3 separate regions of the Homo sapiens genome follow, and regions 1 and 2 are each linked to region 3. Evidence: fine-mapped expression QTL. A gene starts in region 3. Each other region holds a variant in brackets. All regions are shown on one strand. Distances are between the middles of the regions. Region 1 overlaps SH3KBP1 (SH3 domain containing kinase binding protein 1). Region 2 overlaps MAP3K15 (mitogen-activated protein kinase kinase kinase 15). Region 3 holds the start of MAP3K15 (mitogen-activated protein kinase kinase kinase 15).

What was found.
Region 1: its variant is fine-mapped to the expression of MAP3K15 in whole blood (TOPMed, PIP 0.98).
Region 2: its variant is fine-mapped to the expression of MAP3K15 in whole blood (TOPMed, PIP above 0.99).

The regions. Positions count from the first base shown.
Region 1 is chrX:19,567,766-19,572,765 of GRCh38, forward strand. SH3KBP1 (SH3 domain containing kinase binding protein 1) reads right to left here. Exons shown (of 18, transcript NM_031892.3): 13 at 1,338-1,423. Among named protein-coding and RNA genes, the nearest start is that of MAP3K15, 55 kb to the left of the region's middle. The variant T/C (reference allele first, on the strand shown) is at 2,451.
Region 2 is chrX:19,387,938-19,398,657 of GRCh38, forward strand. MAP3K15 (mitogen-activated protein kinase kinase kinase 15) reads right to left here. Exons shown (of 29, transcript NM_001001671.4): 15 at 10,289-10,422; 16 at 7,144-7,271; 17 at 4,406-4,536; 18 at 4,065-4,170. Among named protein-coding and RNA genes, the nearest start is that of PDHA1, 49 kb to the left of the region's middle. The variant C/T (reference allele first, on the strand shown) is at 6,183.
Region 3 is chrX:19,510,448-19,521,167 of GRCh38, forward strand. MAP3K15 (mitogen-activated protein kinase kinase kinase 15) reads right to left here and starts at 5,061. Exons shown (of 29, transcript NM_001001671.4): 1 at 4,454-5,061. The coding sequence starts at 4,814.

The DNA of each region.
Region 1 (5,000 bases), 54 kb after region 3:
ATGACTTCAAAATAAAAAGTTCAATTAAAACAAAGTAAATTTTAAAATTCAGCCTTCTATATTATGTAGAATACGAGAGAATGCTAACTTATGACCTTGATAGGTACAAACAGAAGATGTAAAGCTAAAAAAAATTTATACTATTTGGCCATAAAAACGAGATCCTATCATTTGCAACAACATGGATGGAACTGAAGATCATTATGTTAAGTGAAATAAACCAGGTGCAGAAAGAGAAACATTGCATGTTCTCACTTATTTGTGGGATCTAAAAATCAAAGCAATTGAACTCATGGCGGTAGAGAGCAGAAGGATGATTACCAGAGGCTGGGAAGGGTAGTACAGGGCTGGGGTGGGGAGGCGGTGGGGATGGTTAATAGGTACAAAAAATATAGTTAGAAAGAATGAATAAGACCTACTATTTGATAGCACAATAGCATCTCTATAGTCAATAATAATTTAATTGTATATTTTAAAATAGTGTAATTGGACTGTTTATAACTCAAAGGATAAATGCTTAAGTGGATGGGGAAAAATATGTTGAAATGAAGACTTGCACATGGTTGCAAGTTTTTCTTAAAGCAGGTCATTTTCCTCTTCCCAAGAAATGTGATAGCCTGTTGCTAAACAATATGATTATTTTTATATATTTCTATCATTAAATGGCCTTTATGTCAAAAAATAAAATAAAATAATAAGAAAAAATTAGTCCCTGAATCTGGACTTCTTAAAAGGGTTGTCACCCAGGTCAGACCACTAGTGGCCTTAACAGCACACCGGTGGCCTCACACCCACTCACGTACACCTCCAAAAGGACCTCTGACTTTTATTTACCCAGAGAGACTGTAGCTCCCTCCCATTTATCACATGGTGGTATCCTGACCTTGGGAAAACTCACTCATGTTCTGAACTAAGTGGCAATTACCATACCAAAGCTCATTTGAAACTCAGTCAAAAGTGCTGTATCAACAATGAACCCTGCCATCTCACATTTGCATCCATCCACCTTTTTACACAAAATACACAAATCACTGGAAACTGTGAACATAAGGGCTAATGCCCACTTTTTACAAAAAGGCTTATTCATCATTTCTTTTCATTAGATCTTGTAAGGAATTTCTCCTAGGGAGGGGAAAGGTCCCAGGCATTGTGTTTTAATGTGGAAAGCACCATCATTTCCCTTCTTTACAAAACTGTAACACCTAAAGCCAAGCAAGGGTGCCAGCCTGGCATTTCAATGGCTTTATTACTTCTCATCATGCTGGTTGAAGGCAAGCCAGGCTCTGAGGTTCTTTACTAACTCTGCAAAGAGAAGCGAGAACACTGTCCTTACTCACCAATGTCATTGCTGCGGTCCGAGAGATCTTTGTCCAGGATGCCAGATAGCGAACTGCCGGCCAAGTCAATCTTTGGACTGTCACCCCTACATTAAAAACACAAGCCCAGACATTTAATAATTGGTGTGTGTCCTTGTCATTCTGTCAGTTTTCTTGCTGCACACGTTAAGGAGTGTGCTGGTGTGGAGTGGATGGCACTGTTGCCTGTGAGGGAGCCAGAGAACCAACGAGCTGTCTAGCCACATGAGATGGGGTGCAGACCAGCTGACAGGCTGGATGCGTCCCTCTCCAGCACACGTTTTCAAAAATGGCTATTTTAATAATGACTGTTCGCCCATGTACTTCCAGCCACAAACCCTCCTGCTGGGTACACAGGGTGCAGTATAGGGCCTGCTCCTGCCCTGCGGCCAAATAAACACTGGCTAATGATAACTGGGAGCTTTCCTTTTAAGGAACAAGGAATTTAGCCAATGCTGCTTGTCAAAGGTCAGCTACTTTCAACCTTGAGAAAAAGGTTTTCTGGCCTGGGGTTGTGGCATCAGCCAGGCTGTTGAAAGGCACAAGGTGTCGAGTTGAGATCTGGCGGCCTGAATGCTGGTGCTGGGGCTCAGGCCTGTAACATTAGACGGCTCCTGGATGGGTGCCCCATGCTCATCAGGACACGAATGACTTCCCTCTGTATCTGGGCTAGGAGCAGCTCTATGGGATGGGAACAGGCCTCCAAGATGACGAGAGAAACCTAGCCTTCTCATGCACAAACAGAAGGTTCCTCCAAATTACTCCACAAGACAGCTCTTTGCACCCTTTTGGGGGGATGAGTCACAAACGAGTTTATCCAAGGGCTATGAGAGCGGTGAAATAGGAAAAGATCCTTGCCCATAAAATGAGAGAGAGAAGCTGAGCAGTTGTTCCCAGCAAAGTAACAGAAATAGTCCATCTCACCGCCCCGAAGGCCACCATGGCCTGAAGTTACACCTCACAATGAGTAGTACCAGATTTAGTCAACAAGCACTTGTCATGTGCCACTTGTGCTGTGGGTATTCAGAGGTGTGCCTACTCTGGAATGGCTTGTGGTCTAAATGGGAGAGACAGCCAGCCAGCCACAGGTACACA[T/C]GGCCTAGGCTATAAGACGCAGGTGTCACAGTCCTATTAGAAGAAAGGAGTGGGTCAGTGCAGGAGATCTGTGAGGCAGAGGGTAGTGGGCAAGGAGGTGGTGTTACACTTGAGCCTTGGAGGAAAAGGGAGAGAGGACATATTCCTAAGAGGTGTGACTGAGCAATGACTCCAGTGTAGGTGAGAGTGCCAGTGTGGCCAAGTCCCCCGGGACCAAAGCCTGAAGTCCTCAGAGAGAAGTGACAGGACAAAGGCTGGCAAGGTTGGTGAACACCTGACTGCTGGGCCGGATACTACAGGGCTTGTTTTGTCTGGGAGGCAATGAGGGGCCGAGGGACGGTTGTAGCAGGAGACCTGTATACCTGGAGGTCAGGTCAGGGCAGGTGCTGTGGGTAAACTCCAAACCAGGGAGCTGACAGGACAGACTGCTGCGTTTTTCACTCAAAGAATGGGTGGTGAGCAGGGCACGGTGGCTCACATCTATAATCCCAACACTTTGGGAGGCAGAGATGGGAGCATTACTTGGGCCCAGGAGTTTGGGACCAGCCTGGGCAATGTGGTGAAAACCCATCTCTACAAAAAATACTAAAATTAGCCAGGTGTGGTGGTGCACGCCTGTGGTCCCAGCTACTTGGGAGGCTGAGGCAGGAAGATCACCTGAGCCCAGGGAAGTTGAGGCTTCAGTGAGCCGTGATCGTGCCACTGCACTCCAGCCTGTGTGACAGAGTGAGATCCTGTTTCAAAAAAGGGAGTGTTTGTGGGCGCATTTGGCACAACATGCATATTTTTGTGATGGGAGAAAAGGACCAATGGAAGGAGGTGAGTCCTCCTCAACTCCCAAGCAAAAAACACTGCCTCTTAACCTCAAGCATCCTCCACCGCAGGAGGGGCAGGGGTAAGAATACCAGGGACCAGGCCTAGGCCTAATGGCTTGGCCTCCACTAAGAGAAAATACAGCTCCAAGACTGTCCTGGGAGTGTGTGCTATGATGCTGGCTGGGCCCTTCCAAGCTAGGCTGAAATAGAAGTTCAGGTAGAGCATGAACTCCTGTACTTGGAAAGGAGAAGCAGCTTAGGCTTCAGAGAAGGACCTTTATTTCCTGCCTCACCCTAACTTCCTAAGGCTGTGGGCTCCCCTAGGCTAGGTTTCCACAGCAGACTCCCTCTCCGTCCCCTGGCTACCCAAGCTTGGGCCCCACCAGGGCCATTGCCTCAGACTGATCCCGAGCCAACAGAAAGGGCAGGATGGAGGACATTTATTTCAAAACATTTCACTGTCAGGGCCCCAGCACCCACTAATTTGAAGGTAACCTGAATGAAATGTTTCAGAAATGCAGAATTATTAGCAGAAATGCATTTTCATTTTTAAGAGTTTTCCCCAGATATAAAGAAATACATTCCTGGGGACCCTTAAACATCATTACCTGGGATCCACAGATCCCAGAAGGATTGGGTGCTGCCATCCTTCAAAATAACAGACTAAACACAAATTATACTCACAACCAGACAGCTCTGTCCTTTTTGAAACACACCAAAGATCAAAACTTATAAGACCACATGTCCTGCCCAGGAGAAAGAGAGCACTCAGGCAGTGAGTTTAGTGAACTCTACTTGGCTTTTTTTTTTTTTTCCAGTCAAGAGGGAAAGATGGTTTGAGGTGATACCCTGTGGGCAGCTGGGGTTAAGTCAGAGGGGCTGCTGGCAGAAAGATGAAGTTTTGCTCATGAGTTAATCACATGTATCTCAGAACAGCTCAGCAGTTTCTGAACATGTGGCTTATTTGTGTATTATGGTAACTGTCAATCTGGGAGCTGCTGTTTCCCTCTGCGATTTGACAGCTGGAAGCTTCCAATCAAATGTGAGCCCGTCTCCAGAAACTTTAGAGGACCCTATTGTGCATTACTATGCTTTATTACTTTACTGCTCTTATTTTCCTTTTATTGTCATTCTCAACTATTCTTTTATATATATAAAGTACATATATATGTTATATATAGTACATATGTTATATATAGTACATATATATGTTATATAGAGTACATATATGTTATATAGAGTATATGTTATATATAGTCATATATGTTATATATAGTACATATGTTATATAGTACATATATATGTTATATATAGTACATATATATGTATATATAGTACATATATGTTATATATAGTACATACATATGTTATATATAGTACATACATGTTATATAGTACATATATGTTATATAGTACATGTTATATATAGTACATATATACTATATATAGTACATATATGTTATATATAGTACATATATATGTCACATATATGTACTCTCTCTCTCTCTCTGTCTATATATAAAAGAGTAAAATGTTTTTGTTTTTTTAAGACATGGTCTCATTCTGTCGCCCAGGCTGGAGTGCAGTGGCGTGATCTCGGCTCACTGCAACCTCCACCTCCCAAATGGATTTTATGCATCAGTGTGTTTTTCACAGTGTTATTTGTAATGAAGAAAAACTGAAAAGAACTAGAATCTTTCATAAATAGGAAAACACTTGAATAAACTATGATATT
Region 2 (10,720 bases), 120 kb before region 3:
GATAACTAAACATCAGCCAGGCCCACAGCACGCAAAGCCAGCTTCCAACAGTGCTAGTCAAGTAACAACTTTCCCTGCCCCTGTCCTCTCCTTCCTGCAGCTGGTGATTAGGGAGAAAAAGACAACACCCAGCTCCTGACCACAGGTCGCTGCCTGCAGGGAGACGGGAGAGGGGTCTGACTTTTGAATGAGGACCAGAGCGTTGATCAGTATCAGCCTGAATCTTTTTTTTTGAGACAGGGTCTTGCTCTGTCACCCAGGCTGGAGTGCAGTGGCACAATCGGCTCATGCAACCTCCGCCTCCCGGCTTCAAGCGATGAGTCCTTTTTAATTCCTGAATTCAGACTGTGTGCGCTCCTTCAAGTGTCATTATGACTTTCTCTGTTATGTAAGGGTGGCTGGAAAAGTCAAAGGAAAGAACTCCCGCCCCAGGCAGGATGAAAAGTGGGAGAGAAAAATCCAGTGGCTTTTGTGATTACACCCTTTGAGTCCAATGGGTTCAACACGTTAGTTACACACACAAACTCAGTTCTCTCAAAGGCTCCTTCCAGCTCTAATAACCCATGACTTCTAAGTACAAGCGAGTATTTAATTAGCAAACACTTCAATTGCACTTGCTATGTGCCAGGGACCAGTCAAAGCACTTCATCAGTAACTCACTTTACCCTCATAAAAACCCTATGAGTAGGTACAACGAGCATTTCTATTTTACTTACGAAGAAACTGAGGCACATGGAGGTTAAGTAATATGCCCAAGGTCACACAGCTAGCAAGTGGTTGGGCCAGGATTTGAACCAACGATGTTTGCAGCCAGACGAGAACAGACTTCCTGTCCCGAGTTCTCCCTCTAGGTATCTACCCAAGAAGGCTGAAAACACATGTTCACACACGCTTTGTATGTGAATGTTCACAGCATCATTATTCGCAGTGGCCAAAAAGTAGAAACAATCCCAAATGACTGTTAACTGGTAAACGGATGAACAAAATGTGGTTCTCCACACAATGGAATGCCATTCAGCCATGAACAACAACGAAGTACCCATACACACCACTGCATGGAGGAACTGCAAAAACAGGACTCAACGTGCAAGAAGCTACATGCAAAACCCCACATATTGTATTCATTCCAAGCATATGAATATCCACAACGGGCAAAGCCACACAAACACAACAAAGCAGATGAGTGATGAGCTGGGGCTGGAGTGGGAATGGGGATGAGTACCAAGGGGCACGGGGTCTGCTAGGTCCAGACACTGGATCGTGGTGATGGCTGAGCAACTCAGTAAATTTACTGAAAACCAAAGAATTGAGTACTTCTAATGGGTGCTTTGATGATATGTCAGCTATACCTCGATAAGGCTGCTAAAAAAAAAAAAAAAAAAAAGGCAGGGCTGACCCTGGCTATAACAGCCCTTCCTCCTGTTCTCGCAGGTTCCTATGTGTGGGGCAAACCCTTCAGAGGAACACAGGGAGGGAGGGCTCCAGGCCAGGAAGTTGACTGAAACCCTCTGGCTCTCCTGCCAGGCTGAGCAACCACAGACCCAGAGTTCTGCACCAACCAGCTGAGATTTCCTTACAGAACTGCTCTGTTTTGCAAAGAGCAATTATATGCGGGGGAATTTCCTAACCAAAATGAGACCCCTTCCTTATTATCCCCCAAACACCCCTGCATTCTTTTGCAATGCAAAATCCGTGCCTCCCCAAGCCAATTACTTGGGAAGTGTGATATGCAAGGATGAATTATACATGTGTTTCTTTGTGAGTTTGTTTCCTCCTCAGGGAAGCTAATTATGAGATAAATTGTTGGGGGTTTTATGTCTTCAAATAACTCCTTGTCATATCAGAGCCCCTCTTGCTATGTATTGCCAAGCTAATTGGTGGCTTCCAAAGAGGAGGATACAAGTCATTTTCAATTAGGGTAGTAAAATGCTAAAAGAAAATGAAGTGCTAGTCATACACACATATTCATATACACACATTGACAGATGTATACGTATATTTATACCAGAAACAATGAATGAAAATTCAATGCACTCTTTCTTTGGGAGATTCTGATAGTGTCCCTGGTATAGTATTTTCCCATTTTCAGGCACATGTACCTCCCCTTGTGTTACAAGTGAGAAGTCATTTTGTGATGTATTAAAATTCTCTTTAGATGGTGAATGTGTCTCCACTGTGGGTGTCCAGTGGCTGACACGCGACAACTCTCTCATTGACAAAAAGTCTTTCAAAGCTGACACATTATTTACCAAAAATAAGACCCAAGCTGTCCACCCTACAGCTTTGGTGACTGCAGAGATAGAGAACAGTCACCTGTCTTTTATAGCTTATTTCAGAGCTATATTATTTTAAGAGCTAATTTTTTCTTTTTTTTTTTTTTTTTTTTTTGAGACAGAGTCTCACTCTGCCACCCAGGCTGGAGTGCAGTGGCACAATCACAGCTCACTGCAGCCTCAACCTCCTGGGCTCAAGCGATCCTCCCACCTCAGCCTCACTAGTAGCTGGGACCATAGGCGCACACCACCACACCCAGCTAATAATTACTATATAATATATGTTATATACATATATTATATATAATCATTATGTATTATATTATATATAACATATAATATATAAATATAATATGTAATAATAATAATTATTTATTTTTTGTAGAGATGGGGTTCTCCCTATGTTGCGCAGGCTGGTCTTGAACTCCTGAGCTCAAGTGAGATCCTCCTGCCTCAATCTCCCAAAGTGCCCAGCCTATGAAAGCTGTTTTTTTTTTTTTCTTTTAAGAAATGGGGTCTCACTATGTTGACCACGCTGGTCTTGCACTGCTGGCCTCAAGTGATCCTCCCATCTTGGCCTTTTAAAGTGCTGGGATTACAGGTGTCAGCCACTATACCAGGCCCCAGCTGTTTCATAATTCCATCAAGCAAGATCTTTGTGATCTTTACGTTACTCCTTGGGGGACTATAAACCTTTACTTATTCAAAAATCAGTACTTCTTTCCAAGGATCAAAGTTCTTGTTATTAGTCAGGTTTAAGCAGGAATTTCCAATAGCCACAAGTAGCTTTTGACCATCATTCTACTTATTGATCTTACAACTGTGAAACTAGCTGGTAATTGTATACCACCCTTTGAACCCAGTCCCTCTCAATGCTCAAGTTATTCCATTACTGACACATGGACAAGAAAATCCAATTCCTCAAAATCACTTAGAATACCATATTCCCCAGGAAGAATTAGCCTCTCTTGGAAACACAATCATATCAAAACACAAGGTACCAGAATTCACTACAGTAACAGGCTATTTTTATGACAGACCAATAAAATGTCTTAATCAGTTGTCTGAGGAATACTGTTATTCAGCATTACCCACGATTTCAGATAATGTGCTATTAACTTTAAAGAGATGTGCTGCCATCTTGCTGATTGGTTGAGTGACCTTCAGAAAGCCTCAGCAGAGGCCAGGCGCGGTGGCTCACATCTGTAATCTATCCCAGCACTTTGGGAGGCTGAGGTGGGCGAATCACTTGAGGTCAGGAGTTCGAGACCAGCCTGGTCAACATGGTGAAACCTCGTCTCTACTGAAAATAGAAAATTAGGTGTGGTAGGGGGCGCGCCTATAATCCAAGCTACTTGGGAGGCTGAGAGACGAGAATCATTTGAACCCAGGAGGTGGAGGTAGCAGTGAGCCGAGATCGTGCCACTGCACTCCAGCCTAGGCGACAGAGTGAGACCCCGTCTCAAAAAAAAAAAAAAAAAAAAAAGAAAGAAAAAAAGAAAAAAAAGAAAAGAAAACCTCAGAACCTCAGCAGAGCACTCCATCTACCCAACTTTTGGATGACAAAGAAGAAAGTAGGGCAATCTTGTTGCCACAAGTAGCTGGCTAGGTGCATCACTATGACAAAGTTAAAACAATTTGAAGTTGGGGACAATCCACTGTCTACTTCAAGTATCAATTGCTCACTCTGCTCAGAAAAGGTGCTCACTAAGTAACGGCTGAACAACCGCAGCTTGTGCAGAAAGCGTAACTCTGGGATGGGCACCCTGTGCCAAGCTTTGGTCCACTTACCAGTAAAAGTCTCTGTGCAGGGGTTCACACCCGCAAGACGTTTCGAGGTTCCAAAATCGGAGATTTTCACCACTCCGCTGTAGGTGTTCACCAGAACATTATCGCCCTTCGGAAAATAACATCATCAAGTGCTTAAAAGACAGGCTGAAACGAACTCATATGAAACAGATCTGGACCTTGGGAAACCGTCACAAGTCTCTAGGAAAACTAGACTTTGCATTTTGGGGACGGTTGTGCTAAATCATACCCCTCTGTCAGCCAGTCACTCAGCAGACACCATCGACAGCTCTCATGATCTGATACGAGCAAAGGCAACCTCGTCAGCTTAAAAAAGCAAGTACCTTTATGTCTCTGTGCACGATCTGGTTTTCATGAAGATACTTAAGGCCCTCCAGGATCTGTTTGGTGTAAAACTTGATTGTCGGTTCCTTCATCGGCCCCCATTTGGATCGCAGAAGAGCAGAAAGGCTTCCTAGAGACAGTCACAGCAAAAAACTTATCAGGAAGAGAAAGTTTCAATAAAAGTTCAGGGAAATAAAGTGAGGTGAGGTTTCTAACCTAACCTAAGTGCTTACACCAACACCATCGGATCTGGGCTAAATGCAACATGTTTCCTCCCCTCTGTAGCTACAGCCAGGGAATGGACTGGAAGCAATTGAGCACATGAACCTAACCAGAGGCACAGGGTGAACATGAACCCCTTGTGCCCCCTGAAATTCAGTGGGGCCAATTGTGGGTTTAGCTCTGTTCAGCTACATGAAGTTAGGAGGAGAGCGAAATAATGCTCTCTCAACTTGAGGGGCATGGCCTGCTGGCGTAGATAACTCAGGTCCCATGACACTTGTTTACAGCAGGTCTGTCTCAGTCATTCTGCTTGGGTTAAAGCCACGTTTTATACCTTGTCTGTAATCAGAGGTGGACAGGTCCACAGTGAGGGGCCCTTTAGGGTGACAAGGACTAGGACTGGAGGAAGTTGGGTCTCTCTGTCCTCAATGTGAGAAAGCCACAGTGGCAAGTCTCAGGGCAGGACTGTCTTGATCAACAACCACTTCCCCCAATTACGCTATTAAACACTGAACATTTGGGCCAAAAGAAAAGCTCCCTTAAGGACACTGTGACCACGTCTCGAAGGACATCATGTGAACTGCGGGATGTCCTGTCCATTGGCAGGAACGGGCCCTCAGACATCGGCTGGTCTCAGATTCCCACTTACACAGTGTTATGGGACCTTGATCTACCTTGGTTTCCCCATCTATAAAAGGGGATGAACACATCTGTCTCTATTTCTGTTGATACCCTTAAACCTAACGCCGGGGATGGGGTTATCAACTAACGTGAAGAGTAAGGGGCCGGGCACGGTGGCTCACGCCTGTAATCCCAGCACTTTGGGAGGCCGAGGCGGGCAGATCACCTGAGGTCAGGAGTTCAAGACCAGCCTGGTCAACGTGGCAAAACCCCATCTCTACTAAAAATACAAAAATTAGCCAGGCGTGGTGGCACGCACTTGTAATCCTAGCTACTTGAGAGGCTGAGGCAGAGAGAATTGCTTGAACCCAGGAGGCAGAGGTTGCCATCAGTGAGCCAATATCGTACCACTGCACTCCAGCCTGGGCAACAGACAGAGAGACTCCATCTCAAAAAAAAAAAGAAAAAGCAGCAATGGACGAGTTTTCTGATAGACTATGACCAACTTAAGGGAAAGACAAACTACTTTATTTATTCTAACATAACCCTGAAAATCTAGCCCACTGCCTGGCTCTTTTTTTTTTTTTTTTTTTTTTTTTTTTTGAAGACGGAGTCTCACTGTGTAACCTAGAATGGAGTGGAGTGGTATGATCTTGGCTCACTGCAACCTCCTCCTCCTGGTTTTAAGCGATTCTTGTGCCTCAGCCTCCGGAGTAGCTGGGACTACAGGCGCACGCCACCACACCTGGCTAATTTTTTGTATTTTTAGTAGAGAGGGGGTTTCTCCATGTTGGCCAGGCTGGTCTCGAATTCCTGGCCTCAAGTGATCCACCTGCCTTGGCCTCCCAAAGTGCTGGGATTACAGGCGTGACCACTGTGCCTGGCTGACTGCCTGGCTCTTAATAAATATACTTAAGACTCTTCCTGTAATAG[C/T]AGACTCTTAATAACTGTCAGTTGAATGAATGAATGAAGATTTCTAACTGAAGTTTTAACATCTGTATTCAGATAACTATTATTTAATTAAAGAGTTTGATTCATTATTTCAATGAGCACTTACTGAGCTCTTGTTCTCTGCCAGACAGAATCCACCCAACAGCCCACTGAGACAGCGTTAATTGTTACTCCAATAATTATTACTCCAATTATCAGAGTCATTATTACTCCAATTTTACAGTTCATTTATTCAATCAGAAAACTGAGGGCACAGAGAGGTATAACAATTTGCCTGAAGTCACACAGCTTGTGGATGGAGGAACGGACTCAGACTAGATGGTCTGGGTCCAGATCCCAGGAACTCCCCTCCTGTGCCCTATCTCTTGCATTCAGGGATTTTTGTGGATAAAACACTGATGCTTGATTTCATTATCAAAATGCTATTTTGCACTGTCACTTTTAACATCTATGTTCCCTCTTCTGCACCCTTGTCCAAACCCACCTTTAAACTCCTAGACTGTGAAGGCCTCAAGGCCAAAGACTATGTTTTCTCCATAGACAGTCAATGAATATTTGTGGGTTGAACAAACTGCATCAACAAACCAGAAATAGACTGCTTATATGACATTTGGAAAGTATCCAACTTTCCAACATCTAAAGGGTCTGTTGCTTTTTTTTTTTTTTTTTTTTTTTTTTTTTTTTTTTTTTTTTTTTTTAAAAAGAGTGATGGGTTTTGCTCTGTCGCCCAGGCTGGAGTGCAGTGCTGTGATCATGGCTCACTGCAGCCTTGACCTCATGGGCTCAAGTGATCTTCCCATCTCGGCCTCCCAAGTAACTGGGACTACAGGCGCCCTACAGGCCTGGCTTAGGGGTCTGTCATTTTGTAAATGGCAGGACAACAAATGACATCCACGTCGTAGTGATTTTCAGAATGTGAGACCAGAAGACAGCGACTACTCACCTCCAGGCACCTGCTCCATAAATATCTTAATGTAGCCGTTCTCTGAAACAGAGCCCAGGTACTGAACGATATTGCGGTGCTTAAGGTACTTGTGCAGGGCTATCTCCTCGTGCAGAGGCTGAGAATACCTATTGGGAAAAACAGAGCCAGGGTCACCTGCCAAATCCCAGGGACTCTAGAACCACATCTCACCTCACCAGGACCTGCCCCACTGCTGCCCATCCCTTCTTTCTGGAAACTTTCTTTTCTCTGGCTTCCATGAAACTATTCAACTTCCCATCTGTACAATAGAGGATAAGCCTACAGCCATGCAGGGCTGCCAGGGGCCAAGGCATGTCCATTTCATTAAGCACTTAGTGGAGTAGCTGGTGTGTGGTGAGTATTCAATGAATGACTGCTATTGTTACTACTGTTATTTTTCGGGCCTGAACCCACCAACCATTCTTTACCTCTCTCAACAGCCCCTCTTCCTCTGCCTCCCATGAAGAGTGGTGTTCTGGAAGGTTCTGCCCTCAGCTGCCCTCTCGTCTTATTCTACAGAGTCGCCCCAGACCACAACAGCAGCCACCTAATGGGCCACCCAGCCCCAGCCTCTGGCCTTTTTAATCCATTCCCCAACCTTGGCCATTATACTACCTCTTCTTAAAACACACACTTCACCACATCCCTTCCCCACATAAATTCCACATAGAGACCATGCTATTTAATGTCACATACAAGGACTTTCAAAGATCAGTTCAGGCTAAGCCTTAAAAAATTTTTTTTTGGCCTCATTTCAAGAGCATCTCACTGCCCTGCATCCTACATTCAAGTCATATCAGACAATCTGTTGTTCTCTGAATATACTTTGTGTTTTAACAGCTCTGTTTTTCCATCAGCATAGGCCTCCTTTTCCGCTAAACAAATTCTTACTCATCCCTCAAAGTGCAGCTCAAAGTTGATCTATTTTTTCAAACTTGCCACAACTCACTAAGGAGAGTAATTCATTCCTCTTCTGCGTTCTAAAAACACTCTGTGTACTCCTCTATCATGGCACTTGGCACTTTCACTCAGAGGCAAAGCATCTGCATTTGCCACCGAACCAGCAGAACCCTGGGAAAAGGACACTATCCTAATCACCTTTCGGTCCCCAGTGCCAGCCCAGAGTCTGACACAGAGAAAGTACCTATCATCATAAGTTCAGCCTATAAATTTAGGGAGTTGAACAAAACAGTCTCTAAAGGTCCCTTCTAGCTCTTAAAATCCCAGGAACTACTGATCAGCAACAAAAAGCTAGAACAGCTATTGCTACCAAATGAAGGAGATGGGACATGCCAGAAATTTCCCCAAATAGATACAACTGCAACACCTTATCCATCATGAGAAAAGAGACTGGATGCTGGATGAGGAACTCAAGAGACTCGGATCCTAGTCTTGTTTCTAAGCATCCTTGGGAAAGTCATTTAATCTTCCTCAGTCTTGATTTTCTTATTGGTGAAATGAAGAAATGGAAATAGTTCATTTCAGGTCCTGTCTCATAATTCACGTATCATAACATGCTATCCCACTGAAAATCAACAAATACATGAATGGATGAATGAAGGGTCTTACAGCTGGCAGAAATCCCTTAAAACTCATCCCCAATATATCAGCAATCACCCAGATACATGGGTGTTTACACATTATTCTTCAGCACTCGACACTGAAGGCAATCCTACAGCTGTGGTCTGACACACCTGTGGATCCCGGAATGATTAATTCCAACTGTGTATGTAGCTTCTCTACAGAAACACTTTGCAGTCAACATTGCAATGCTCATTTTGTTGGGGTATAAATTTAAACTTTTTTTTTTTTTTTTGAGACAGGGTCTCACTCTGTCACCCAGGCTGGAGTGCAGTGGCACAGTCTCGGCTCACTGTAGCCTCTGCCTCCGGGGTTCAAGCGATTCTCGTGCCTCAGCCTCCAGAGTAGCTGGGACTACAGGTGTGCGCCACCATGCCCACCCACCTAAGTTTTGTATTTTTAACAGAGACGAGGTTTCACCATGTTCCCCAGGCTGGTCTTGAACTCTTGACCTCAAGTGAGCTGCCCGCCTCAGCCTCCCAAAGTGCTGGGATTACAGGCTTGAGCTACAATGCCCGGCTAGAAACAAACATTTCTTAAAATTAAAAAAAGTCAAAGAAATGAATAAGCAGTACTCATGGTAGAAAAACAGTCCAAAATCCATGTGTGAGGGTGAAGGGTAGGATGTTAAAAAAAATTCTGTACTGCAAAAATCTGATTTTTTTTATCTGCATGTAATTTTCCACAATGATGCATCTGAACAAATCATAGCCATTTTCAACTGCTACAATGTAAATTTAAAATAACCCAGTAATATTTAAAAATTATATTTGCACTCAAAAATTAGACAGGCATGGTGACGTGTGTCTGTAGTCCCAGCTCCTCAGGCGGCTGAAGTGGGAAGATCACTTGAGCCCAGGAGGTGGAGACTGCAGTGAGCCGAGATCTGCCACTGCACTCCTGCCTGAGTGACAGAGTGAGACTTCATCTCAAAAATGTATATATATTTGCAAACAACTACGCAAAAAATGTAAAACTTTAGACCTAGCCAATGGGTGGAAACACAACAAAAGTTTTCTTTTAAAATATGATCCTCTGCAATCCACGTGCCTCTGAAGTGTAGTTCTTCCATTTTCTCAATCTATAATACACAAAACAAAAGCACATCACCCTGGCCGGGCGCGGTGGCTCATGCCTGTAATCCCAGCACTTTGGGAGGCCAAGGCGGGCAGATCACTTGAGGTCAGGAGTTCGAGACCAACCTGACCAACATGGTGAAACCCCGTCTCTACTAAAAATACAAAAAAATCAGCTGGGCATGGTGTAATCCCAGCTACAGGTTGAGCCATGAGAATTGCTTGAACCTGGGAGGCAGAGGTTGCAGTGAGCCAAGATCATGCCACTGCACTCCAGCCTGGGCAATAGAGCGAGACTCCGTTTCAAAAAAAAAAAAAAAAAAAAGATCACCCCTATTACAAGAGAATGACAGGTTTTGTGGTAACACAATGCTTTTGCCCTTAACTCCTCCACACCATGAGCGGTGGGTATGGGATCTGGGGTGTGGAGACGGCACCCGAAATGCGGAAGGCCCGCCTGGACTTGCCTGCTATCTCTCTCCGGGATTTCTTTGATGGCTATTCGCACTTGATTGCTCAGATCTCGGCCAGCATACACAATCCCATACGTGCCTTTCCCCAAGACAACTCTCTCACCATTTGCATCATGGTCATACTCATACTGAAGAAGGAAAAACAAAAGGACAAAAAAGCATACAACTTGTAGCGGAGAAGCCCTCTAAGGCCCCCAGAGTTGTCTAGCAACTAAAAAAAATATAAATAACATTATTTGACTGTCAGGCAAGTCACAGTGCTTAGCTTAGGCCCTTTTCATTAAATGACTTTAAAGGGGCAGAATTCTCCATTGTTCACCTGTTCATAGTATGACTTTATGAAATGGAATCCAAGAAAATTAAAAATATGGTTTGCATATAATTGGCTCACCTTTTGGAAATTCTTCCCCATTTTAACGCTGCAAT
Region 3 (10,720 bases):
AATTATCTCAATAGATGCAGAAAAGGCCTTCGATAAAATTCAACACCGCTTCATGCTAAAAACTCTCAACAAACTAGGTATTGATGGAACATATCTCAAAATAATAAGAGCTATTTAAAATAAACCCATAGCCAATATCATACTGAATGGGCAAAAGCTGGAAGCATTCCCTTTGAAAACTGGCACAAGCCAGGGATGCCCTCTCTCACCACTCCTATTCAACATAGTGTTGGAAGTTCTGGCCAGGGCAATCAGGCAGGAGAAGGAAATAAAGGGTATTCAATTAGGAAGAGAGGAAGTCAAATCGTCTGTTTGTAGACAACATGATTGTATATTTAGAAAACCCCACGGTCTCAGCCCAAAAACTCCTTAAGCTGATAAACAACTTCAGCAAAGTCTCAGGATACAAAATCAATGTGCAAAAATCACAAGCATTCCTATGCACCAATAAAAGACAAACACAGAGCCAAATCATGAGTGAACTCCCATTCACAATTGCCACTAAGAGAATAAAATACCAAGGAATATAGACCAGTGGAACAGAACAGAGGCCTCAGAAATAACGCCACACATCTACAACCATCTGATCTTTGACAAACCTGACAAAAACAAGCAATGGGGAAAGGATTCCCTATTTAATAAATGGTGCTGGGAAAACTGGCTAGCCATATGCAGAAAACTGAAACTGGACCCCTTTCTTACACCTTATACAAAAATTAACTCAAGATGGATTAAAGACTTAAACGTAAGACCTAAAACCATAAAAACCCTAGAAGAAAACCTAGGCAATACCATTCAGGACATAGGCATGGGCAAGGACTTCATGGCTTAAACACCAAAAGCAACGGCAACAAAAGCCAAAATAGACAAAGGAAATCTAATTAAACTAAAGAGCTTCTGCACAGCAGAAGAAACTATCATCAGAGTGAACAGGCAACCTACAGAATGGGAGAACGTTTTTGGAATCTATCAATCTGACAAAGGTCTAATATCCAGAATCTACAAGGAACTTAAACAAATGTACAAGAAAAAAACAACCCCATCAAAAAGTGAGCAAAGGATATGAACAGACACTTTTCAAAAGAAGACATTTATGTGGCAAACAAACATATGAAAAAAAAACCCATCAATACTAGTCATTAGAGAAATGCAAATCAAAATCACAATGAGATACCATCTCACGCCAGTTAGAATGGCGATCATTAAAAAGTCAGGAAACAACAGATGCTGGAGAGGATGTGGAGAAATAGGAATGCTTTTACACTGTTGGTGGGAGTGTGAATTAGTTCAACCATTGTGAAAGACAGTGTGGCAATTCCTCAAGGATCTAGAACCAGAAATACCATTTGACCCAGCAATCCCATTGCTGGGTATATACCCAAAGGATTATAAATCATTCTACTCTAAAGACACAGGCAAATGTATGTTTACTGCAGCACTATTTACAATAGCAAAGACTTGGAACCAACCCAAATGCCCATCAATGATAGACTGGATAAAGAAAATGTTGCACATATACACAATGGAATACTATGCAGCCATGAAAAAGGATGAGTTCATGTCCTTTGCAGGGACATGGATGAAGCTGGAAACCATCATCCTCAGCAAACTAACACAGGAACAGAAAACCAAACACTACATGTTCTCACTCATAAGTGGGAGTTGAACAATGAGAACCCATGGACACAGGGAGGGGAACATCACACACACACCCCAGGGCCTGTGGGGAGTGGGAGGGGAGGGAGAGCATTAGGACAAATACCTAATGCATGCTTAAAACCTAGATGACAGGTTGATTGGTGCAGCAAACCACCATGGCACATGTATACCTATGTAACAAACCTGCACGTTCAGCACATGTATCCCAGAACTTAAAGTTAAAAATAAATACTTGGGCCGTTCAACAGTTCCCCTCCCCCACAAGCCTTTTTCCAGAACAGCATTGTTCAATAGGACCTTCTGAGATGAGGAAAGAGTTCTGTAACTTCACTGTCCCACCTGGGAGTTACTTGTGCCTACGGAGCATGCATTTATTCGTTTATTTAGAGACAGGGTCTCGATCTGTCACCCAGGCTGGAGTGCAGTGGCATAAACACAGGTCACCGCAGCATCGACCTCCCGGGCTTAAGTGATCCTCCTGCCTCCACCTCCCAGGTAGCTGGGACCACAGGCACATGGGTGCCACCACATCCTGCTTTTTTTTTTTTTTTTTTTTTGCTCAGGTTGGTCTTGAACTCCTGTACTCAAGCAATCCTCCCGCCTTGGCCTTCCAAAGGGCTGGGATTACAGGCGTGAGCCACTGCACCTGGCCTATCAAGCGCCTTAAATGCCACTAGTGCAACTAAGGATCTTACCATTTTTACCGTATTCTAATCAGTTTAACTGTCAAGAGCCACCTGTGGCTAGTGGCTACCAAATTGGACAGAGTGGTTTTAGAATTTTTACAAAGAAGCCAAAGTGAGAGCTCTGTATCTTTTTTGGTGGAAACATCAAAAAGCAGTGAGTGATGGAGGACGAATCCAGGAGACAGTGGAGGTGCTCATCTGTTTAGCCCAGGAACCCACTTACTGTGTATGTACTTTCTCAAACCTCTGAAAGCAATTCTAATGCACTGAGAAATGATTTACTCAAGACCAGGACAAGGTTAACCAAAGGGAGCTCGTGGTACAGCCCAACATTCTAGGCCACCCAGGCCAGAGTGAGCCAAGGTGACGTGTCTGTTGTGTGGCTCCAGAATTGAAAGCCTGAGATTTGACGTCTGCATCTTCACAGTCGACCTGTTAGAAGGGCCCCCCGTACACACACACTCCGCCCCAGGGAAAGCAAAAGCCACCGCACACAAATCTTTCAGAGGTGGCACCAGCAGGAAGGAGAGTGTTGTGCCTCATGGCAAAAGGAACATTTAACCGTTCAGAGAAGAGTCTGTTCAAACTCCAATTTTGGAGCAGAATGAATACAAGTTGAGAAAACGGAGTGGTTCTAGGTGAAGTGGACTCCTGAACGACTTTTCTAAAAAGATGTTGTGCTGAAGAGTATACTCAGTGTGGTCAGAAATGTCAGGAGAGTGCTTTCAATGGGTCCAGCTGCCACTTGTTTAAACAAGCCTGACTCCCCCCCTACCCCGCCCTTCCAGCTGGGGAGAATTTGCTCTGCAAGAAAAACAGATCTGCGCTGCCTCCAGCAGAGGCTGAATCCTAATCATCCTAGCTTACTATTACAGCAAAGCAACTTCCCATATCCTATCTCATCAGCTTTTAGGTTTAGGGTAGGCACTGTTAACTCCCTTTGACCAGAAACTGAGGCACAAGGACTCCCAGGTAATTACTGTCTCACATATAATGCTTCTGAACGTCACCCAGGTGACAGAGGTTTGTCACCAAAGGTGCTGTAAGGGAAAAAACGTCAAGCAACAATTCATTCCACACCGAGAGAAACTCTTGCCAATCCAAAGTACGCTTCTTAAGGCTGGATTCTCAGGCACATTTATTATAGTGAGTTTAGAGACCTAGAGTCCCACTCCAGCAAAGGTGCCCCCTAACCCGTGAATGCTGTGCATTATGGGATAAAATATACGTCACAGGGTGGTGGCTCACACTCCACCGTCAGTGTTTTGGGGACGAGAATTGAAGTGTGCAAAAGAACACTGGGTATTTCTAAGTAGAGGCAACACACACACACGTAAGACACCGATTTCCACTCCTGGCTGCAAAATGGAATCGCCTGGGAAGCATGACACTTCTAAGGCCTCGGGTGCTTATGTCATTGGTCTGGGGTCCGATCTGGGCACCCAGAGTTTTAAAAGCTCCCCAGGTGATTCTAATATGTAGCCTGCGTTGGGACCCACGGCCGTAAGAGACCTTCCAGGAATGAGAAAGCAAAAGTTGGATAACTTGGGAGAAGGGGGGCTTGGTAGGGTCTGGGTTACAGGCTGTTTCTTGGGTTATCTGATGTTTAAGATGCCTGAAGAATCAAAGAGTCTAAATGCCCGTGGCCTCTATTTTCTTATCTGTAAAAGGGCACAATGTTAAAGACTCTACCCTCCCCCAAAGGCAGGACGGTCCTGTTGGACGGATCAGGGGGTGAGAGGATAGGAGGGGGGCTAAGGGGAGGGGGATGAGAGGAAGGGGACTAGGGGAAGGGGAGGTGGACTAAGGGGAGGGAGACTAAGGGGAGAGGGGACTAAGGGGAGGGGGGCCTGCGGGAGGGGGGACTGGGGGAGGGGGATAAGGGGAGGGGGATAAGGGGAGGGGGACTAGAGACGAGGGGGACTGGGGGAGGGGAGGGGGACTAGGGGGAGGGGAGGGGGACGAGGGGGAGGGGAGGGGGACGAGGGGGAGGGGAGGGGGACGAGGGGGAGGGGGACGGGGGAGAAGGGCGAGGGGGCGGGGCGGGTGCCCTGGCTCGTGTGAGGGTAGGTGAACTGGGACTGAGGTGGGGACGAAGCCGCTCTCACCTGCGTCGTAGAAGGCGTCGAGCACGGCCGTCTCCCCGAAGTCCAGCTCCCCGAAGGGCACGGAGGTGAGGTGAGCGCCCTCGGCCTCGCAGGCCCGCAGCAGGCACTGCCGCGCCCCAGCCTCCGGGCCGCCGGCCGCGCCGCCCTGGGAGCTCTCACTGCGCACGTATACTGCCCGCAGAGCCCGCCGCGGCCCGCCCCCACTCTCGCCCTCGCCGCTGCCGCCTGCCGCGCCCTCCGCCGCCCCGTCGGGCTCCGCCGGCCCGGCCGCGCCCTCCACCCCCGGCGGCGGCGGGCACTGAGGGGACTCGCTCGCCGCCCCGAGGGCCCCGGCCGGAGCATTCCCACCGCCGCTCTCCATGTGCCCGCCTGCGCGCCCTTCCCCTGGGCGAGTGGCCAGCGGCTGCGATCCGCTAGGAGGCACAAGTTACAGCAGCCGCGCAGGCGGTCCCGGCACCTGCTCCTGAAGCGCGGGACGCTACGGGAATCGAGGGAACGGAGCGCACCGGGGACCCCGCGGCGGGCCGAAGACGGCAGTACCCCTAGGCTGCAGCCTGACGCTCAGGCCCCAAGGCCCCCAGCGCCCTTTGAAGGCCGGAGAGAAAGAGGCGGGGGCTGGGGACGTCAGGGCGAGCGAGGGGCGGGGAGGGGGCCGGGGAGGGCGGCGGGGCAGGAGCGGGGAGGGTGCCCCCTGCTGCCCCCTCCAGGCAGCGCCCGCCCGCAGCCGGGAGACGCCGAACACGGGAACAGGAATTGGGGTTGTTTTTTTTTTTGTTTTGTTTTTTGTTTTTTGTTTTGGCCATCCCTCTAGCCTGACCACCATTAGGAGCTCCAATTTCTTTTTTCTCAAAACAACTTGAAGCATTCGAGCAGGGTAAAAACTCTTTCAAAGCATCGGTTGGATGGAAATGTTCTATTCCCAACTCAATACAGACGTATTAATAGTTTTCACCCGGCATTGGGATGAACGGATGCTTCATCCCTGGTTGCCAAGCGCACGGCCCCCCGTGAGCCCTGTGCCGGAGGCGAGCTCGTCCTGGCTTTCGCCGTGACCTTGACAAGGCACAGGGAGGCACCAGCAACAAATTTTGTCTGGAAGATAGACTCCAAGTACGCTGCCTGCCTGACCTTTGAAAATGCCGTGAACTCAAAGGGGCCCTCACTCGGATCTTAGGCACTTCACGAATTTGGACACAAATATTAAAAGAAAATAGTGTTACCACTGAGGGTAATACCATTATTCTTATTTTTTATCTTTTTTGAGACAAAGTCTGTCGCTATCGCCCAGGCTGGAGTGCAGTGGCGCGATCTCTGCTCTAGGCTCACTACAACCTCTGCTTCTCGGGGCTCAAGCGATCCTCCCACCTCAGCCTTCAGAGTAGCTGGGATTACAGGCACGCACCTCACCATGTCCGGCTAATTTTTTTTTTTTTTTTTTTTTTTTTGTATTTTTAGTAGAGACGGGGTTTCACTATGTTGGCCAGGCTGCTGTCGAATTCCCGAGTTCAAGCGACCCGCCCGCCTCAGCCTCTCCAAGTGCTAGGATTACAGGCGTGAGCCACCGCACCTGGGTCATTGTTTTCTAAAAGATAGAATGCACCGGACGCTGTCACAGACTTGGAGGTTTTTCTTTTTTCAATTGCAATATTATTTTTAAACTTTATTTTTAATTGACAAATAATTGTATATATTTATGGAATACAATCTGTTGTTTTTCATTTAAGTTCAGGGGTATATGTGCAGGTTTGTTACACAGGTAAACTTGTGTCATTGGGGTGTGTTGTATAGATTATTTCATCACCCAGGCATTAAGGCTAGTACCCATTAGTTATTTTTCCTGATCCTCTCCTTCCTCCCACCCTTCACCCTCTGATAGGCCACAGTGTGTGTTGTTCCCCTCCATGTGTCCATGTGTTCTCATCATTTAGCTCCCACTTATGAGTAAGAACATGGGGCATTTGGTTTTCTGTTTCTGCATTTGTTTGCTAAGAATAATGGCCTCCAGCTCCATCCATGTTCCTGCAAAGGACATGATCTCATTCTTTTTTATGGCTGCATAGTATTCCATGGTGTGTATGTACCACATTTTCTTTATTCAATCTACCATTGATGAGCATTTAGATTGATTTCATGTCTTGGCTATTGTGAATAGTGCTGCAATGAACATACACATGTATGTGTCAACAGAGTGAACAAACAACCTACAGAATGGGAGAAAATTTTTGCAAACTATGCATCTGACAAAGGTCTAATATCCAGCATCTATAAATAACTTAAATTTACAAGAAAACAACAAACAGCCCCATTAAAAAGTGGGCAAAGGACATGAACAGACACTCTTCAAAAGAAGACATACATGTGGCCAACAATCATATGAAAGAAAAGCCTCAACATCACTGATCATTAGAGAAATGCAAATCAAAACCACAACTAGATACCATCTCACACCAGTCAGAATGGCTATTATTAAAAAGTCAAAAAATAACAGATGGTGGCGAGGCTGTGGAGGAAAAGAAACATTTATACACTGTTAGTGGGAGTGGAAATTAGTTCAACCATTGTGGAAGACAGTGTGGCAATTCCTCAAAGACCTTATAATGGAAATAACATTCCACCCAGCAATCCCGTTACTGGGCTTATACCCAAAGGTTTTCTCTTTTTTAATAACAGCTTTATTGAGCTATCATTCACATACCATACAATTCACCCATTTAGAGGGTACGATTCAATGAAAGTTTTTAGTATATCCACAGCGTTGTGCAGCTATGGCCATAATGAGTTATACAACATTTTCATCACCCCACGCCCCAGTGCAAAAATCAATCAGTACCCATTAGAAACCACTCTCCCTCCTTCCCAACATCCCCAGCTCTAGGTAACCATAAGTCTACCATCTCTGTAGATTTGCCTATTCTGGACATTTCATACAAATGGAATCATGCAATGTGTGGACATAGGTTTTTGAGCATATACCGGAGCAGGATTTCTGGGTCACATGCTAACTCTACAGTTTTTTTTAGAAAACGTTTTTATAGAGATGGGGTCTCACTATCTTGTTCAAGCTGGTCTCGAACTCCTGGCTCCTACCTCGGCCTCCCAAAGCACTGGGATTACAAGTGTGAGCCACCACACCAGGCTTACCTCTGTGTTTAACCTTTGGAGAAATTTCCACGGTTTTCCAAAGTGGCTGCACCGTTTTCCATTCTCACCAACCAGCAGTGTTCCAATTTCCCTGCATCTTCACCAACACTTGTTATTGTTTTTGGATTATGACCATCCTAGCAGGTGTGAAATTGTACTTCATGATGGTTTTGATTTCTATTTCCCTGATGGATAATGACACTGGGCATCTTGTCATGTGTTAATTATTGGCCATTTGTATAACAACTTCTGAGTGATGTCTATTCAAATCCTTTGCCCATTTTTTAATTGAGTATTTGTCTTTTTATTATTGAGTTGTAAGAATCCTCTACATATTGTGGATAGAAGTTCCTTATCAGATATGTGATTTGCAAATATCTTCTTCCATTCTGTGAGCTGTCTTTTTACTTTCTTGAGGGTGTCCTTGGCAGCACATCACAAGCCATTTTGACACGTGCAGGATAGGACTTATAAAACATTTCAGCTTCTTTGCATGCTTCAGTACTAATACAGTCCACCTCCCACCCCCAAAGAAAGCAGAAACTATCTGTATAAATCCATGAAGAAATCCTGCCCTCGTTCCAGCCCTGGCGGAAATCACAAGCAGCTTCCATGTGCATCCTCGTCTGTGGTCAACGAATGGAAAATGGGTTCTGAGGAAATCTGTGAGAACACACAGACCAGGCTGGGAAGCAGGAAAGCTCAGAAAAACTCTCCACACCTTGTTCTAAGACATTTTTTGTATGATGCTATAAAAGGACACATGTATTCTTTGTAACGTTGTAATGCATAATAATAGTAATTTTCCTAATATGCCTGTTCATCTGGAATTATTCCAGGGACTGCCACAGCCTTCAGAAGGGCAAAGATGCCCACTTAAAATCCCTTGCCAGCATCTTGCTGTTGTCCCCATCACAATCTTCCCGAATTCCTCTCAGCTCTCACTGGGGCCCTGCTGATGGAGTGAGACCCACGGGAGCTGTGAATTCTGGCTTGAATAAGAGCTTCCTCTAAATACAAACCCTGCTGAGTAAATGCTGAGAGCGCAGCATTTACCCAGCTAACGAGCACCTTCCCTGAAGTTGGGACACACAGCCCACCTTCTCATTGTGTGTAGCAATTTGCACACCTGAAGCATGCCCTGGCCCCTTCCCCCAATGTCCTTCCTACCTCCCCCCAGCCCCACTGAGAAGAAAATTGCAAAATGCTGGATTCGTTTCTTCTGTTTAATTGAACAACTGTCTTGTTCTTACCTTTGCCTTGCCCCTTATTAAGTACATGCCCTGGAAACAACTTTGTCCTAATGTAGAGGTATCATGGAAAGTTCTTCCATATATTTAATTTTTTTTTTTTTTTTTTTTTTTTGAGGCAGGGTCTTGCTTTGTCACCCAGGCAGGAGTGCAGTGGCGCGATCACAGCTCATTGCAGCCTCAACCTCCTGTGCTCAAACAATCCTCCTACCACATTTTTTTATTTTTTTTGTAGAGATGATGTCTCACTATGTTGCACAGACTGGTCTCCAAATCCTGGGCTCAAGCAATCCTCCTGCCTTGGCCTCTCAAAGTGTTGGGATTACAGACATGAGCCACCATGCCTGACCTCTTCCATATATTTAGAGGAAATCCCTTTGTGAGTGCTACCCACTATTTTTTTTTTTTTTTTCAGACAGGGCCTTGCTCTGTTGCCCAGGCTGGAGTGCAGTGGTGTGATCATGGCTTACTGCAGCCTTGACCTTCTGGTCTGGGCTCAAGCAATCCTCCCGCCTCAGCCTCCCAAGTACCTGGGGTCACAGGTGTATGCCACCATACCTGGCTAATTGTTTCTGTAGAGATGGGTTCTTGCCATGTTGGCCAGGCTGGTCTCAAACTCTCGGGCTCAAGCAATCCTCCCACCTCCGCCTCCCATAGTGCCGGGATTACAGTTGTGAGGTACTGTGCCTGGCCACACCCACTGGTTCCAATTTAATTATTCTTCCACATGGCAACTGTCCAAGAATTCTCCTTAAGTCTTCTCTTTTGCAGGTGATACCCCACCTCCCAGGCCCTTCGATCATTTCTCCATGGCATCATTTCCAGACTACTCTCCACCCTGATGACCCTCTCCTAGAGGATTCCATATTTGTCTCTATTGTTGTTTTGTGTATGTAAAAAACTTTTTTAATTAAAATGTTTTCTTTTGAGATAATTGTAGATTCACATGCAATTATAAGAAATAAAACAGAGACATCTAGTGTACCCTTGATCCAGTTTGTCCCAATGTTAACATCTTGTTGTATACTACCATAACCGAGACATTGACCTTGATACAATCAAAATACAAAAGAGGGCCGGGCACAGTGGCTCACACCTGTAATCCTAGCACTTTGGGAGGCTGAGATGGGCGCATCACCTGAGGTCAGGAGTTCAAGACCAGCCCGGCCAACATGGTGAAACCCCATCTCTACTAAAAGTATAAAAATTAGCCAGGCGTGGTGGCACGTGCCTGTAGTCCCAGCTACTCAAGGGGCTGAGGCATGAGAATTGCTTGAACCCGGAAGACAGAGGTTGCAGTGAGCTGAGATCATGCCACTGCACTCCAGTCTGGGTGATGGAGTGAGACTGTGTCTCAAAAAAAAAAATATATATATATATATATGTGTGTGTGTGTGTGTGTGTGTGTGTGTGTGTGTGTACACACAAGGATTGGTTCTGTCACCCTTTGATAGCCACACCCATCACCCTTCTCAACCCCCATCCCTAACTGCTGGCAAGCACTCATCTCTTCTTCCCCACTTGCCCCCTGCGACGGAGTCTTGCTCTGTCGCCCAGGCTGGAGTGTACTGGCGCGATCTCGGCTCACTGCAAGCTCCACCTCCCGGGTTCTAGCAATTCTCCTGCCTCAGCCTCCCGAGTAGCTAGGATTACAGGTGCCTGCTACCACATCTGGCTAATTTTTGTATTTTTAGTAGAGATGGAGTTTCACCATGTTGGCCAGGCTGGTCTCAAACTCCTGATCTCAAGTGATCCGCCCGCCTTGACCTCCCAAAGTGCTGGGATTACAGGCGCCCAGCCACATAACATTTTTGAAGTGACAAAATTATAGAAATGAAAAAAAGGGCCGGGGGCATTGGCTCATGCCTGTAAGCCC